Linked DNA regions of Homo sapiens. The protein of the gene in region 1 interacts with the protein of each later gene in a biochemical or structural test. Each region holds a gene or a part of one and is shown in the gene's direction. Other genes may lie near its edges.

What was found. The genes of interacting proteins can lie anywhere in the genome.
Region 2: the proteins of PAG1 (region 1) and SYK form a complex in vitro, tested with the Homo sapiens proteins (one study listed by BioGRID).

What each region holds. Positions count from the first base shown.
Region 1 is NC_000008.11:81,109,022-81,116,512, reverse strand, and holds the start of PAG1 (phosphoprotein associated with glycosphingolipid-enriched microdomains 1), read left to right. Parts: upstream 1-4,444; 5' UTR 4,445-4,922; exon of another isoform or gene 4,923-7,491. UniProt on the Homo sapiens protein: Negatively regulates TCR (T-cell antigen receptor)-mediated signaling in T-cells and FCER1 (high affinity immunoglobulin epsilon receptor)-mediated signaling in mast cells.
Region 2 is NC_000009.12:90,804,819-90,811,818, forward strand, and holds part of SYK (tyrosine-protein kinase SYK), read left to right. Parts: intron 1-7,000. UniProt on the Homo sapiens protein: Non-receptor tyrosine kinase which mediates signal transduction downstream of a variety of transmembrane receptors including classical immunoreceptors like the B-cell receptor (BCR).

The sequences.
Region 1 (7,491 bases):
CACCATAATTTCTTTCTCCCGGTAGAAAGATATGAAAATGTCAAGTCCTTAAGCCTTGACTTTTCCTCTACAGTATAGTGTGAGGCTGCAGAGCTACATTAGTAGGTTTTGCCCTGATCTCCCTTGAAAGCCTTTTCTACACGATTCTCCTGTCCTCAGAGGAGCCCTAAAGTCACTCTTAAGTCTTCTGATGGAGAAGGAAAGTACTCTCTTAAAAACTACAGTTCATCATGGTTTACATTAAAATGATAAAATAGACACTAAGAGATGTCTAGTTTCAGATTTTAACTCTAGGAGAGATTTTGTAAAGCCCACCACTAATAGCTAGCATATTCGGAACCTAATATGTGCTTGAAGCTCTTGTTACTGTGTATTAGGTAATCAAAGATGGCAGTCACGTGATTACAGCTGATGGATGGAGATGCTGGGAGTGGGGGCCAGACAGCCTGTGAGGTTCGCACTGTGCAGCATGGCCTCTCCCCCAGCTGCTCTCTCCTTTTATTAGTGGGCAATTTGGTTGGGAGGGAGGAAAAAGTAACTCTTAGAGATTGAAATTGAGGGTATATTTTGTAGTAGTTCTTTAAAGCATCTATCATGGGTTTTAAGGAATTTATAATCTATTTCTTAACCTCTGATCCCTCTTTCCTATAGACAAAGTCACACGTGGAATCCTCAGCACTTTAAGTTCAGGTAAGCTGTGAGTTGCCAGCAGAGTCTTGATTGCTTGCTCTCTAATCTTGCTCACAGGCCATTGCCCAGTCTTATCTCAGAAGCTGCTGATACTCAGTCTCCACCAGCCTTTGCTCCTCAGCAACCAAAGGCCACTTCCTGCCTTCCTTCTTCCATCCCTAAATTCCATCCTGTCCCAGCCCCCGACCCCATTCCTGCCTTAGCCCAACATCCCTACCCATCACCTATTTCTTCTCAGGTTCAGGGTTATAATTAACACTCTATTAGCTTTTTTTGTTGTTAATAGAGACTTAAAAAACATTATGGAGCTAGCCTGAAAATCCTGATTATTTATTATATTGACTGCTCTAAATTGTAAGTGAGATAACTTAGACATGAACATTTACAATGCAGGCACGTCGTAAGTTTCCTGCATTAGGGCAAGAATTGGGCTTTCTAATACTTTTCTAAAGTTTCTCGGGAAAGAAGACAGGACCCTAATCTCCCCCAATCCCATCTACACCAGGGATTCAGTGATGGTTTCCAGTGAAGTTATCAGCTGCTGCATGTGTTCAAACAAGGCAAACTTTGTAATAAGCCATGTCCACAAATCAAGCACAACTTGTATTAATTTTTATGGCAAGCTTATTTTTCACCAAGTGGCATCTAATTCCTTCCTCCCAACTGTCTCACTCTTGCTAGTCACCTTGGACTCCCCACAGTTCTCTTATCTGGACTGTGTCTATGAAGTAAGTGAAGATTTTCATGTCAAAGAATCCCTTTGAGTGAAATGGATGAAGAAATGTAATTAATAAAGGTGGAGAATTTTTGAGCCTAAGCTTTCCAGCTCAGTTGGTAAGCCTGTGATTTTTAGCAGAAAGACTTTAATAAAAATCTATCCTAGGTACAGTTTCTGCATGAGGGAAGAATAGTTTCAGTGGAGTCATTAGTGTCTATATAATTGAATATCTCACTACTAGGACTTTTAGAGGCATTGAAGGAAGGAATTCTCAGCCAAAGAGTAGGCCTTGCTGACCCATAAGGAATACAGACCTCAGAGAAAAAGATGTAGCTGCGATTTCTGCCAGACAATCAATAGCAGCTGATGTGAAATAAATTCTAAATACAGACACAGTCAATATCAAGACACAGTCAATATTAAAGCACAGTCAATATAGTATCAAGACAATATTATATATTTCATGTATTTAATGCCAATAACAATGGTTCAAAATTCAATAGCAGTAGGACACACCAATTAATAGTAACTTTTTATTTAATTAAATCTTGGATCTCTTGAAATCAATATACAAATGAATTATGTAAATATTTTGATTGAAATGTCGGGCACCTAAGAAAACAATGACAACTTTGGGTTCTTCTAAAGGTCCCAACATGACTATTCTGCTACCTTCATATTTAAAATATATATATATTTCTTATTAAAAACTGAAGTAAGTTTTACAACCTGTGATGTACCAGCTCCTTCAAAGAATTCTTTTTTCTTAGGAATTAATTTCATAATCACACCGAAGAATGGCTGTAATGGAAGAGTTAGATAAGAAGTAAAGATAAAGGCAGGTAGACCACAGTTGGCAGTGTAGCATTCCCAGTCAAACCTCTGGATTAGAAGACTGTATATAACTATCACATACTTGCTTCCAAAACATTACTCAGACCGAGAGTATAGCCCATAGCATCTACCACAAGCACAAGAATTGATCCTGACACTTTTGGTTCTCTATCTAGGAGTGGCTTTGAAATACATTTGAGTTCCAATTTACTGATGGCAAATCCTGATATGAAAAATTTGGAAATGAAAAACAATCCTCAGCATGTTACTTGGTGAAAAGAGAGCAGAGGAAAAGGACAGAGGCTAGAGATTGGCTCCTGCCTGCATTCGTGAATTTGTCTAAATCACTTAGCTTCTGAGCCTGGGTAAAATGAGGATGGTAATTACACTTGTCACCAGATAACGTGAATATTGCCCTTCAAACTCCTCAATGAAGCCTGCACTGTGGAACTGCAATGTCCTAGGACCGGGTTGCTCTTAGAACATTTTGTTCTAAGTGTATCCTAACAAGTGTAGCAAAACTGGAAGACACAAAATGTATTTCCTCCCCACAAGAATGAAAGCCTTCCTAACTCCAAATTTAGGCACAGCCTGTAAAAGATGTGACTAGTAAACACAGAAACCATTTGCTTTATAAGGTCTAAATTGTCCTCTTCTCCAGAGTTGTAGAAGCCAAGTCCAACACGGAGATCCCTACTTTTATTCAAGTTCCACCATTAGTCAACTCATGTCCAGGATGTCTTCTTTAATATATAAAATGGGGATACTTTTTTATATTATTATTCAACTTAAGAGACCACTGTGAAATTTCAGTGAGGTAACGTATGTGAAATGTTATACTCCATAAGTTCTTAAACACCTGAGTTTCATACCATGCTCTGAAGCAAGAGGCCAAGTCTGGTTCCTGGGTCCGCTTCCCCAATGGGCTTTTCCAAGCTGTAGGCTGAGTCTAAACTGTTTCCTCCCACATACCCTTCCCTCTGCGACACACTAACAACATCCCTTACTCCATCACTGTCTTCCTTACCCTCTCCTGATGAGCCTTCTTCCCCAGCCACCTTTAAGCTCCCATTAATGATATGTGTAACGAGTGTTCAATAGAGTGTGTGTGTGTATATTTAATGCCATTTATATGTTTTTTCTTGCTAAGTAATGCATCATAATTTTAGAAAATTGGGACTAGTCAGATAAAGCACCCGTTGGTTTAGAATCCCTGACTCAAAGTCAGATGTCCTGAGTTCTAGACTTGGTTTGTCTCCTTGTAAGTGCAAAAGTTTATTCCCAATTCCAGGTTGCTAGTGTAAACTTGAAGTTTGGCCCAAACAAAACCCCTATCAGATTTATTTAGAGTGTTGATGCCAAATGGAATTCTAGAAGCCCACCTTTGCCAGGGGCTGAGCCAGAACCACTATCACTGGGGGTACGGCCTGGGCATTTGTTCTGCGTTTTTTATAAGCCCCTCGGGTGACTGTCAGACAGGCCAACTGTTTCAGAAGCTCTGCTCCAGGCTCTAGATCACACGTTAAGTAGCAAGGATGGGGGTCTGGACCTCCAGTATTGGCATCCTCCGAGAGCTTGTTAGAAAGGATGTCTCCCTCATTATCCCAGGCCTACTGAATCTGAATCTTGCATCTCATCACAATCCGCAGGAGATTCTGTCACACACTGAGGGTTTGAGAAGCACTGCTGTACCTTGGTATCTTTAGATACCTACTGATACCTGGGTGGGCCCCACCCAGACATTGTCCTGTACTTGTTCTGGGATGCGTCCGGGGCAAAGGGTTCTTACAAGCTCCCCAAGTTATTTTAATGCACAGCCACAATAGAAGATCACTGTCCCCCAAATGGCAACCCTTTACGGTTAAGCTGTAACCTGAATTAAATTGGCTTTTGTGGGCTCCCCAGGGACCTTAAGGACCGCTTAAACGGTGCTGTTTAAAGGACAATGGGCTCCTGGGACAAGTTCAACCACAGAGCTTTGGGTTCATAAAATCAGGGCAGGGAAGACTTCCTGCATCCTCCCGCGAGCAAGCCAGGCCCCGCGCCGGTCCTCACCCGTGTGCACCCCCAGCCCGGCCCCGCCCGGCTCGCCCCCTCCCGCCCCGCGGCCCGCCCCTCCTCCCCCGTGACGTGCCGCTGCGGCCAGGATCATGCGCACTCGCGCCCCGCTCCCCGCGCGGCTGCTCCGCCTCGGCGCCTGTCATTCTCCGCGGCGCGGCGGCGAGTGCTGGCTGCGGTACCCTCCCGCTCGCTTGTCCGTCTGCGCGCCCGCGATGTGACCAGCCGACTGGGGGCGGGCTGGCGGCTCTGCCTGCGGCAGCGCATCGGTTTTTCTCCTGGCAGGTCCCTAATTGAGCCGTGATTCCCTTGGAGCCAGAGACACCCACCAGGGGCTCGGAGCGCCGCGCTCCGGGGCTGGAGGCAGCTGCAGCGCTCGGGTCCGCGCGGCCGGGTGCAGTAGCCTCAGTCCCAGCCGCCGCCTCGCTGAGTCGTGTGCCCTGGCGAATGCCCGGCGCCCGGCACAGCTGAGCCAAGGCGACTGGTGCAGAGCGGCGGCGCCTGGTCCTGCACTTGCCGCTGCTGCCGGGCTGTGCCGGGGCGGCGGCGCTGCGCGCCGGAGTTTGCAGAGGCTGCCTCCGAGCGCCGTCCGCCAGGAAGACTCCCTGCCTCCTGAGTCCCAGTAAGTTGACTGTAGTTTCTGAAGTTGGAGGGAGCCGTGGGAAGGAGAGGTTCGTTTTTATCTTCTTGTGGGAAGCCGAGGGTGGCACCTCTTGTTAACAGAGTTCCAGCTCGAGGAGGGAGTGCGGGGTGCCAAGAAGGGGACAAGGCAGCTGGAAGGTCTGGAGTCCAGGGCTGGCTGACCTCAGCATCTCACGAATGTGCCAGTTGGAAATATGCTGGGAGAGGACAGGTACTCCTAGGGCATTTCGACTGCTGCGTGCTAATTATTCATTCCAAGCTCCTTGACTCTGTGTTTACGTTGGGGTGAAGGGGCTGGGCAGGGTCTTGTCACCTCCATCCTAATTCCTCTGGGGAGTGTGGCCAGCACTGCGATGGATCTTTGGGCGAGCCATTTCTTTCAGGCCTGCAGGCTTCCCGCGCATCCCGCTTTACTCTTCCCCTAGGCAGAAGTTGCCAACCTTTTCATAATTGGAGCCTAGTCCTTTAGGGAAAAAACAACTTATATGTCGACCCGGTGTTTTATGCCCTAAGGCAAATAAAACGAGCTCTGGGCGTGTGAATTCATACACTTTAAGAATGTAGGCAAGTCTCAAGAAATAGGATTCAGATAATGACACTTGGATTTCACCCTGATTGTCCTGCACCTCTTATGTAAGCCTCCCGGCTGGATAACTTTATCTCTGCAGTGGCTGCAGCTGTGGCCCTCCATTCCATTTGTTTAAAGTCCAATTGAACAGTATTTACTGAAAATGCTGACATGATATAGCGGCCTGAAGTCTGAAACAGAGTGCACTCTTCAAATTGGAGTGTCTTCTCCTAATAGGGAGCATGGGAGGAACAACCCACTATATTTTTCAAGGCAGCTCCAGGAATTAGACCCATAAATCATGTTTTAAAATAGCATGCATTGTGCAGAGAGCATGCAGAGGACCGCTTTTTGAACACATCCCCTTTGTTTTAGAAAAAGTGGAAATTGTTCATGCCAGACAATTGTTGAGTCTAAAAGTTAAGTGTACTGATGGGCCTAATTATCTTAATAAACAAAGAGCATGATTTATAGGTAGCTGCAGTGCCCTACTTTGAAGGATAGAAATCTTTAACCTTTCTTTCTCAGCTGTTCCCGAGAGATTCCTTTTAAGCAGAGCTATGGATTATCATCATTGATGTTTAATACCTGAGTTGGTTAAACTTGTAAAAGGAATAGTACTTTGAAGTACCATGCAGTACTGCTGTGTGACTGTTACACAGCGAATATTATAAATAAGAGGAATATTTGGAGTATTGGGTATAGATGTCATTAGTTTAACAAAATAGGTCATATTAAGACTTTCCTGCTAAATATATATACACATACATAAATGTTTAATTTGGACTTGAAATTATTGTTTAAACCAAAGCTCAGGGGTATGTTTTAATGTAAGATTTATTTACATAATCTTTGAAGAGAGAAGTGCATTTATTTATGGTATTTCAGCATGCAGAACAAGATGAACTAGTTATAGGCACCTTATTTAAAGTGTAAAGGGTTTTTTTTTAGGAATACTAAGAAAATACACAAAATGTTATTTCAGAAGTTGAAAAGTTAGTCACATCAACACATTGCGGTTTGTGAGAGCATCCAGTGCTTATCTCTAGAAGAGATTACATCCAAGCATGGAATCTCAAACAGATTGACCCATTAAGCCCTATTGCAGCCTGGTTAGGAGGACAGGCTATGGAGCCAGGCTGCCAGCTCTGGTACCATCTGTTTGAATCTAGGCAAGTAACCCAAAGTCTGTGCCTCAGTGTCTTCATCTGTACAATGGGGATGACAGTAGTAGTACCTACCCCACTGAACAGTAGTGAGAATTAAATGAGTTCATAGACATAGAGCTGTTGGGCCAGTATCTGGCATATTAAGCTTGTTCTGGGAAAAATTTTCATTGTTATGAAAGGAAATGCATCTTTGGACTCTATGGACATTGAATTGCTGCTATGGACATTGAATTGCTGCTGATGAATATTAACAGAAGCAGTTCATGTGTATAATAGGAGAGAAGGTATAAACATTTATTGTGCACTGTCTAGCGATACAGACACCAACTGGTATTTAACACTGTCTTGCTCAATTCCCCACCACAGTCCTTTGAGGTAAGTGGCTTCATCTCTACTTTAGAGATGAGAAAATGGGAGCTCAGTGAGATCAAATAGTAGAAATTGGAGCTGGCATTTAACCCACGTCTGTCTGTGTTGAAACTGTGTTCTTTTTGACCCTGCTGCCTCAACTTGCAAATGAAGTAGTTGCATTATTATCCTCAATTTATACATGAAGAAATCTAAGCTTAAGGATTAAAGTATGCAAAGTGCTTAACAGCACCCACAACAGAAATGATCATAATTATTGTTAAATAACTTGCCCATGCTTCCATACCTCCTAATGTGTGGTAGAGGTGCCAGGTCTTTCAATTTGAAGTGGATTCTGTTGCTTTATTATTTTTCTATTCATGCATTCAGAGAGTCAAAAAAGAAAAATTGGTGTGATGTTAGAGTTTACACTGGAGGGTGGTGGTCTCCATTTGGTTTCCTGC
Region 2 (7,000 bases), on another chromosome or scaffold:
GATTGTGGGAAGATGTTTTAAGAACTAGTCTGATTGGATTTTAGGAAAGTTCATTCATTTTGATATGATGTTATCAGGGACATTTTCTATTTGCTTATAATTTTATCTGACCAATATTAGCTTGTATCAATTTGAGGTTTTTTTTTCCTTTATGAATCAATTGTGCAAGGTTTGCCCTACATCTCTTAAAAGGTGGTTAAACTGGAATCTTAAAGACAGTTGAATTTAGCCAAGACCAAAGATATGCAAAGAAAGAATATTTTGTTTATGTTACAGTACATTTAATAAATCCAAATGGCTCCCTTGATTCTTTTCTTTCTGGGACACCACGTATTGATTTCTGGCAGCTGGCCAAAGGCAGATGGTGGTGGAGCAAGCGAGGACAGTTAAGAATGTTGATGATTACTGGATTACTGAGGAGTACTGTGAGCTTTCTGGTCCTCTGCTCAGAGGTGTCTAGCTCTGAAACTGGGATCCTGGCTCTGAGCTGGAGAGGCGCTTCCAGTTACTGCTGTCCTGGAGCGCTGGAAGGGAGCATAAGTGTGAGGAGACAGTGGGCTTTTAGCCTGGGATGCAGATGAGAGATGTCTTGACCTGAGTGAAAACCTTGCAGGCAAGCTGCAGGTCTACCGAGCAGGGTGAGGGAGGCTCTCGACCTGGATACTGTGAACTAGGGAGAGAAAGTAAATTCAACAGAAGGAGGGCCCAGGGCAGAGATTTAGGAATATCCACAGTTTAAATATTGCTTTACTTAAGTATACTCTGCCTGACTATAAGTAGCATTTGAATGTTCAACATATGACCTTTCATTTCTCCCCTCCATTGGTTTGTCTTAACTGATAAATCTTTATTTTCCCATGGTCAACCTGGTAGTTTATTAATATTACATCTATCAGTTCCTGTTGAGTTGACATGAAAATGTTTTGGTGTGACCTAAGTTAATTTCTCTTTTTGTTTAATTTTAATTTGTAATGAGTTCCTCTTTTCATTCTGCCCATCCTTTGGTACTGCTTTGAGTTATGTCCTCTAGAATTCTCACTATTTCCTTATGATTGGCATATTTTCAAAGTTTTTTGGTGTACTAATTTTAAACAGTGTTTGTTGACACTGAGAATTCAGGACTTTGGAGTTTTAGACCACCATCACCTTCTACTCCTTCTCACACCATCCCAGGATAATTATTCTCTCATTTGAGATTAAGAAGTTATTTGGTTTATTTTATTATGGTTATATAAATATAGTTTACTGCTAAAGCAAGGTATATCATTCCATTTTCTATCTCGTACCCCTTTTTGCTCTTCCTGGGGTAAACCCTTGCTTTGTTTTTGTGTTTTCTTAGTTTGCACTGTGCCTATTATCATTTCCTTCCCAACTTTCTGACATAAAGATGAAAGCCCTATTGACACAATTTTCTACAGTGTCAGATATACCAAGTAATCTCACGGTTCCATTTTTCTTTCTTTTTTTCTAGAACCCTCCATCTTCTTCTTGTCTAACAGTTGCTCTTCAGTCTTGCTATACATACAGTAATACCTGAAGAATGTTTGGAGGATATTTGGTGTGGGACTTTTCTTTTTTTTTTTTCTTTTTCTTTTTTGTAGAGATGGGCTCTCACTATATTGCCCAGGCTAGTCTCAAACTCCTGGGCCCAAGCAATCCTCTTGCCTCAGCCTCCCAAAGTGCTGGGATTATAGGCATGATCCACTGTGCCCAGCCCTATGGGGAATATTTGTTGACTAAATATGTTTTATGTAAATTGCTTATCATACTCTTTGTTGTAACATCTGTGGCATTAATATGCCTCTTGTTAACACTCACCTACATTTTACCTGTTGTAAATCCACTGTCATAATTATTGAAAATATTTCTCCAGAGCTTTTTAATTCTATGGTTATTTATTTATTGTAGTATAGAACTTTTATGATTTCTTCCATCAGGGTGCATTCTGAATCATGCTTAGTGAGAGATGGTTTTTAACTCCACTTTAACAGTTAGCATCTATGTTTTACATCAGTGTCAATGTCACTTTTGTATTATATACGACACCAACATTTTATTATCTGAGTGATGAGAATGTTTATTTTTGTGGAAATGGAGATCTCATGAGACTTTAAGCAGATTGCTGGCCTTCTCCTCGATTTCCTTGATTGATTCCTGAAGTGGAACTGCAGTGCTAAGTGGAATTCCCTGGGAAGCTTGCTCAAGTAAGTAAGCATGAGAAATGCTGAATGAAATAAAGTGCAGCAAGCAGGGATAAATATCATGGGCATCTTCAGAGCCTTTGTGCAGGTAACATGCACAGAGATTCTCTGAGAGAGTCAGTCTCAGCCAGTGGTCCTACACTTCCATGACCCTGCAGTGCGTTTGTTCTTAGAGTGGCTTTCAGGGCTGGCTCTGCCACAGCCTCTTTGGGAAACCATGCATGACCTCTTGCTGCTCCTTACCAAGCTCCTTAGGCTTTGCTTGGTAGAGGCAGAATGTTGTGGTTGTTTTCATCTTAAATGCTAACAATATATGAATTATGTGGTGGATACACTGCCTCAAAGTGACATTTATCGAATATTTTTGTAGCTACGGGTTGAGAGTAAGGGTCTGAGGCCCCACTGGGTTCAAGTCCCCCTTCTTTATTTGTAAGCTCTTCTTTTGTAAATGGAGCAGTCACAGGGGGCTTCACTCTGATACCTAATGGAGACCGTGCCTGCAGTGCTCGGTACCTGGTATGTGGTTAAAACTGACATAACTGTCAGAGCCTCTCCCAGGCGGGCTGACTCTGGGAATCTGCCCTGCAGTCTTGGAGGGAAGGCACGTCCAGATAGGTTTGATGAGCAACTACAATTGCCAAAGTTAGTTTCTCTGACCTCCAAGATGGGAGAACTTTCTAATATTTTCTTTTAGGAAAGTTGTCCATTGCATAACTGATACACGAGTACATATCCTTTAGTACAGGATTCAGATACAGCGAGCAACAGAAAAGCCCTTCTTAACCTCCACCCTCAGTCCCAGCCCTGCCCCCAGTCCCACTGTTGGGGAGCAGTTGGAGCTCTAACCTCTCTTCTTTCGTCCTGTGCATTCATGTGTGCATGTGTGCACGTCTTCAGAAGATATAATGGTGGGCTGTGTATGTCTTCTTAATACCTTTATCACTCTGGAACTTTCTTTTTATTAATATGTTGGGGTGCGGGGAGGTCTCCATATTCAGTGATTATTGTAATTTTTATGACAGTCCAGAATAGGCATGTCGATTTTTTTTAATTTTTGATATTATAAACAGTGCTGCAATGAATGCACTTTTTCTTTTCATTCTTTCCCTCTCCTTTGCCATTTGCACTGTGTTTTCATGAAACCATCAGGTTAATCTTTATCTCAAGGAAGCCCTTCATCCCTGTCCATCCTGTTCTTCAGTCCATCCACTTAGTTTTCCTATGATTATTTTAGCAAGCAGGTGGTTAATTTCCAAGGAATGTAGTTACTTCTTTGGGATTTTTTTAAGTGATGTATTAGTTTTCTGTGTATTTTATTACTTGTTTGAGTGCACCATTACCCCCGTCTCCCGGGGTATCAGTTCATCTGCTTGCATGCTTGGTGCCTCTCTCTCCTGCTGTCAGCTTTCCTGATGTGCTGGGTATTTCCACGTGTGTGTTGGTTTTTTTTTTTTTTTAGGTACCCTAGGCATTAGTCTTTTAAGGCTGCATTCTTGCAGCCTGTCCCACATGAGATAGGAGGAGGGCAAGACCTGGATGTGCACAGGGCAGGATGGGCCCATAACTGGTCTGTGTGGTGTGTGGGTGGCAGGAACTCCCTGTTCTTTGTGGGTATGGCCATGCCTTCCCTATTCAAACGAAGCCACACACCTGTCTTTTCCTGCGAGGCGTCTTCTGCTGCTTTCTTGGAGCTGGGGAGCATCTACTCTTCCCTTGTCCTCCCGCTCCTCCCTGTTCCTCCCTCAGGTCTCTGTCGCTTCTAAGGCACTCCACCCTTGGTCTTCTCCCACCTTGCACCCCCCACACTGCTGCCTGCCTGCACAGGGGGACTGTGATTGCCCCCTTCAGTGTGAGCCTGACCTGCTTCATGCCTTTCAAGGAGAGCATTCATTGCCAAGCTACTCATGGAACATCTCCTCAGATCCTCAGCGTGCTATGACTTCATTTTCTGTAATACTGTTTTTCATGTTTCTTCCCCTTCTCTGCATTTATAGCTGTGCATATGCTTGAGGTGGAAGGCCACCACTTCCTTTTGGTTAACAACACCAATCAGCTGATGGTCATGGCTACGTGAAGGAACTCACAGTGAGGGCTCAGGAAGAGCCTGGCTAGAGCAGGCTGCATCGCAGGCCTTGGCGTTAGGTTCCCCAAATCACTGCTGGTGATCTTGTAGCTCTGTCATGAAGTCTGTCCTGCTTATTAGGATACCGAGGGTCCAAATTCATAGATTCTTAGAAGCCTGTTTAAATATGCAGAGTATCTAATTCAACCCGATTAGAAACGGGCTCAGAAAGGTGAAGGGATTTGTCCAACCACTGAGTGATGCTGCTGGGATTAGAACTCTCAAAACTAGGTGTTTCTAATCCAGAACCAGAATCCCTATCCACTACTCTAATAAGGCGTAAAAGAGGATCTGCTGTCCTGCCTAATTGGTGGGCAGGTTTGGAGTCCTGTCAGCAGCTCAGGAAAGCCTGGAGAGGCAGAGGGAGGACACAGGCTCAGTGTCAGACATGCCAATTTTACTCATCACCAATGGTTACACAAAACTTGTTTTGATCTTTGTGGCTTTTGCATTGAGAAGTTAAGCATATACAATAGGAATTAGACACAATCCCAAACCAATGAGAGACTCAAGTGAGAAGAGCTGAAGCTTTTATGCATGCCTTCCTTCCATAGAGATAAATTTACTATCCAGAGTGAACTAGAGCCTCGTGGAAAGTGAGTGCCGAGCCCCTAGCTGTGAGTGTCTCTGTCCTTCCCACATCAGACCTCCATGTCTGTGGCTGTCCCCCTACGGGGCAGAACTGCTGCTCTCTGCTTGTGTTGCTGTCGTGAGGGTTGGGAGTGGACAGGTGTGGACAGATCTCAGACCCGTTTCCCTCCTGTTATGGAAATGTTTGTGAGGCAGGTGGGACTTCAATGATTTGGTCAAGGAAAGGCAGCTTGGCAGCTGGGGAGAAGGGCTCAGGCTAGAAAGGCAAGCGTTTGTGAGGGATGATTTCCCCAAAGAAGCCAGCAGTGTGTAAGGTATTCCCCGGAGCTTGTTTCTTCTCAGAAGACTCTGGAAGCTGTGTCAGTGTCTGTTATGGAGGAATGGAGTATCAGTCCGATCAGGCTTTCATAACAAAGCACCACATACTGAACGGCTTGAACAGCCCAATGTGTCGCCTCCCAACTCTGAGCCAAAGAGACTGAGGTCAGGATGTCCCAGGGTGGCTCCTTCCAAGGGTTGGGTGGGACAATGTGCCCCCAGCATCTCCTTGGCTTGTGGGTGACCATCTCCAGCTCCACATGGCATGCTCCCTGTGTGCCTGTCTCTGGGTCCAGATCTCCTTTTCATGTAAGGACACCAGTCATGTTGGAGTAGGGCTCACCCTAAGGACTTCAATGGGGCGTAATCACTGCTGTAAAGACCCTGTCTTTAAATAAGGTCACACTCAGAGGGGTTAGGGAGTTAGGACATCAACATTTGAACTTGGGGGGACACAATTCAACCTGTAACAAATGTGTGAGTGAAGACTGGCACCTCCCCACGATGGCCTTTCTGTGATGCCATCAAGAGCACCAGGGAGCTCTCCAGATATGGAGATGGACAGATGTCTAAGGCCCCTGAAATGAGCCTGCTGTACAGATGATTCCAGAACTCTGTCAGTGTGAAGACCAAACACAATTAAGCACATTAAAATACTTACGGTAAAGTGTTTCTTTCACTTTAGATGTGCAAAAACTTAAAGAGAGAGAGACTTATGAGAAGACTCAGGGAAGAAATGTAAGATAAAGGTGTTAAGGGAGACAAACTCCACAAAATTGTAAAGTGAAGCTGCTGTGGGGAGTAGAGCCCAGACCCAGATAATATGCAGGCATGGGTCCAAGGGAGGCTTTGCACACCAGGCGGGGGAGGTGCAGGGCCATGGATGAATGGTCTTGGGAAAACGGCAAATCGTTTGGAAAAAAAAACAAAACTTTGCTCTTTATATCAAAATAAATTCCAAGCTGAACAAAGAATAAAAATATAGCATTGAAATAATGAAGCTATTAAAAGAAAACTTAGGTGAGTTTTAAAATAATTGTGAAGAGGCCTGTCTAAATGTGATAAAACATATGAATTTATATTCACACTCATCACAAGATTGATAAGCATGATTTCCTAAAATTTTAAGCAAATCCCCATAAAATGAAAAAATATACAAATAAGTGAAAAAAATGGTAAGATATATTTAATTTCAATACTTGTGGTAAAGCATCAATAGCTTTAATATGCAGCGAGTTTTTTCAAATCAATAAGAAAAAAGACACAGATGGGTGCTGACAGGGCCGTTTGGTAATATCTTTTAAAATTTAAAACACAAGTGCTTTCACTCAACAACTTCACTTTTAGGAACCTATCACACATATAAATTGACAAAAGTGGAGAAATATTCATTGCAACATTTTATTTTATAATAGCAAAAAAAAATCACTAAGGGAAGTACAGTTGATTCATATGTTGGAATCCTATGCAGTCTTCTAAAAAATGTGGAATTTATTTCATACACCAAATATAACAATGTCCAAGTTCTACTAGTGAAAAAGCAAGATGTAACATATCATTGTATTTGTTTAAAAAACTCATGCTGGGTTGGGTGCAATGACTCATGCCTGTAATTCCAGCACTTTGGGAAGCCAAGGTGGGTGGATTGCTTGAGCTCAGGAGTTTGAAGCCAGCCTGGGCAATATGGCAAAACCCCACCTCTATGACAAATACCAAAAAAAAAAACTAGCCTGGACTGGTGGTGTGCACCTGTAGTCCCAGCTACATG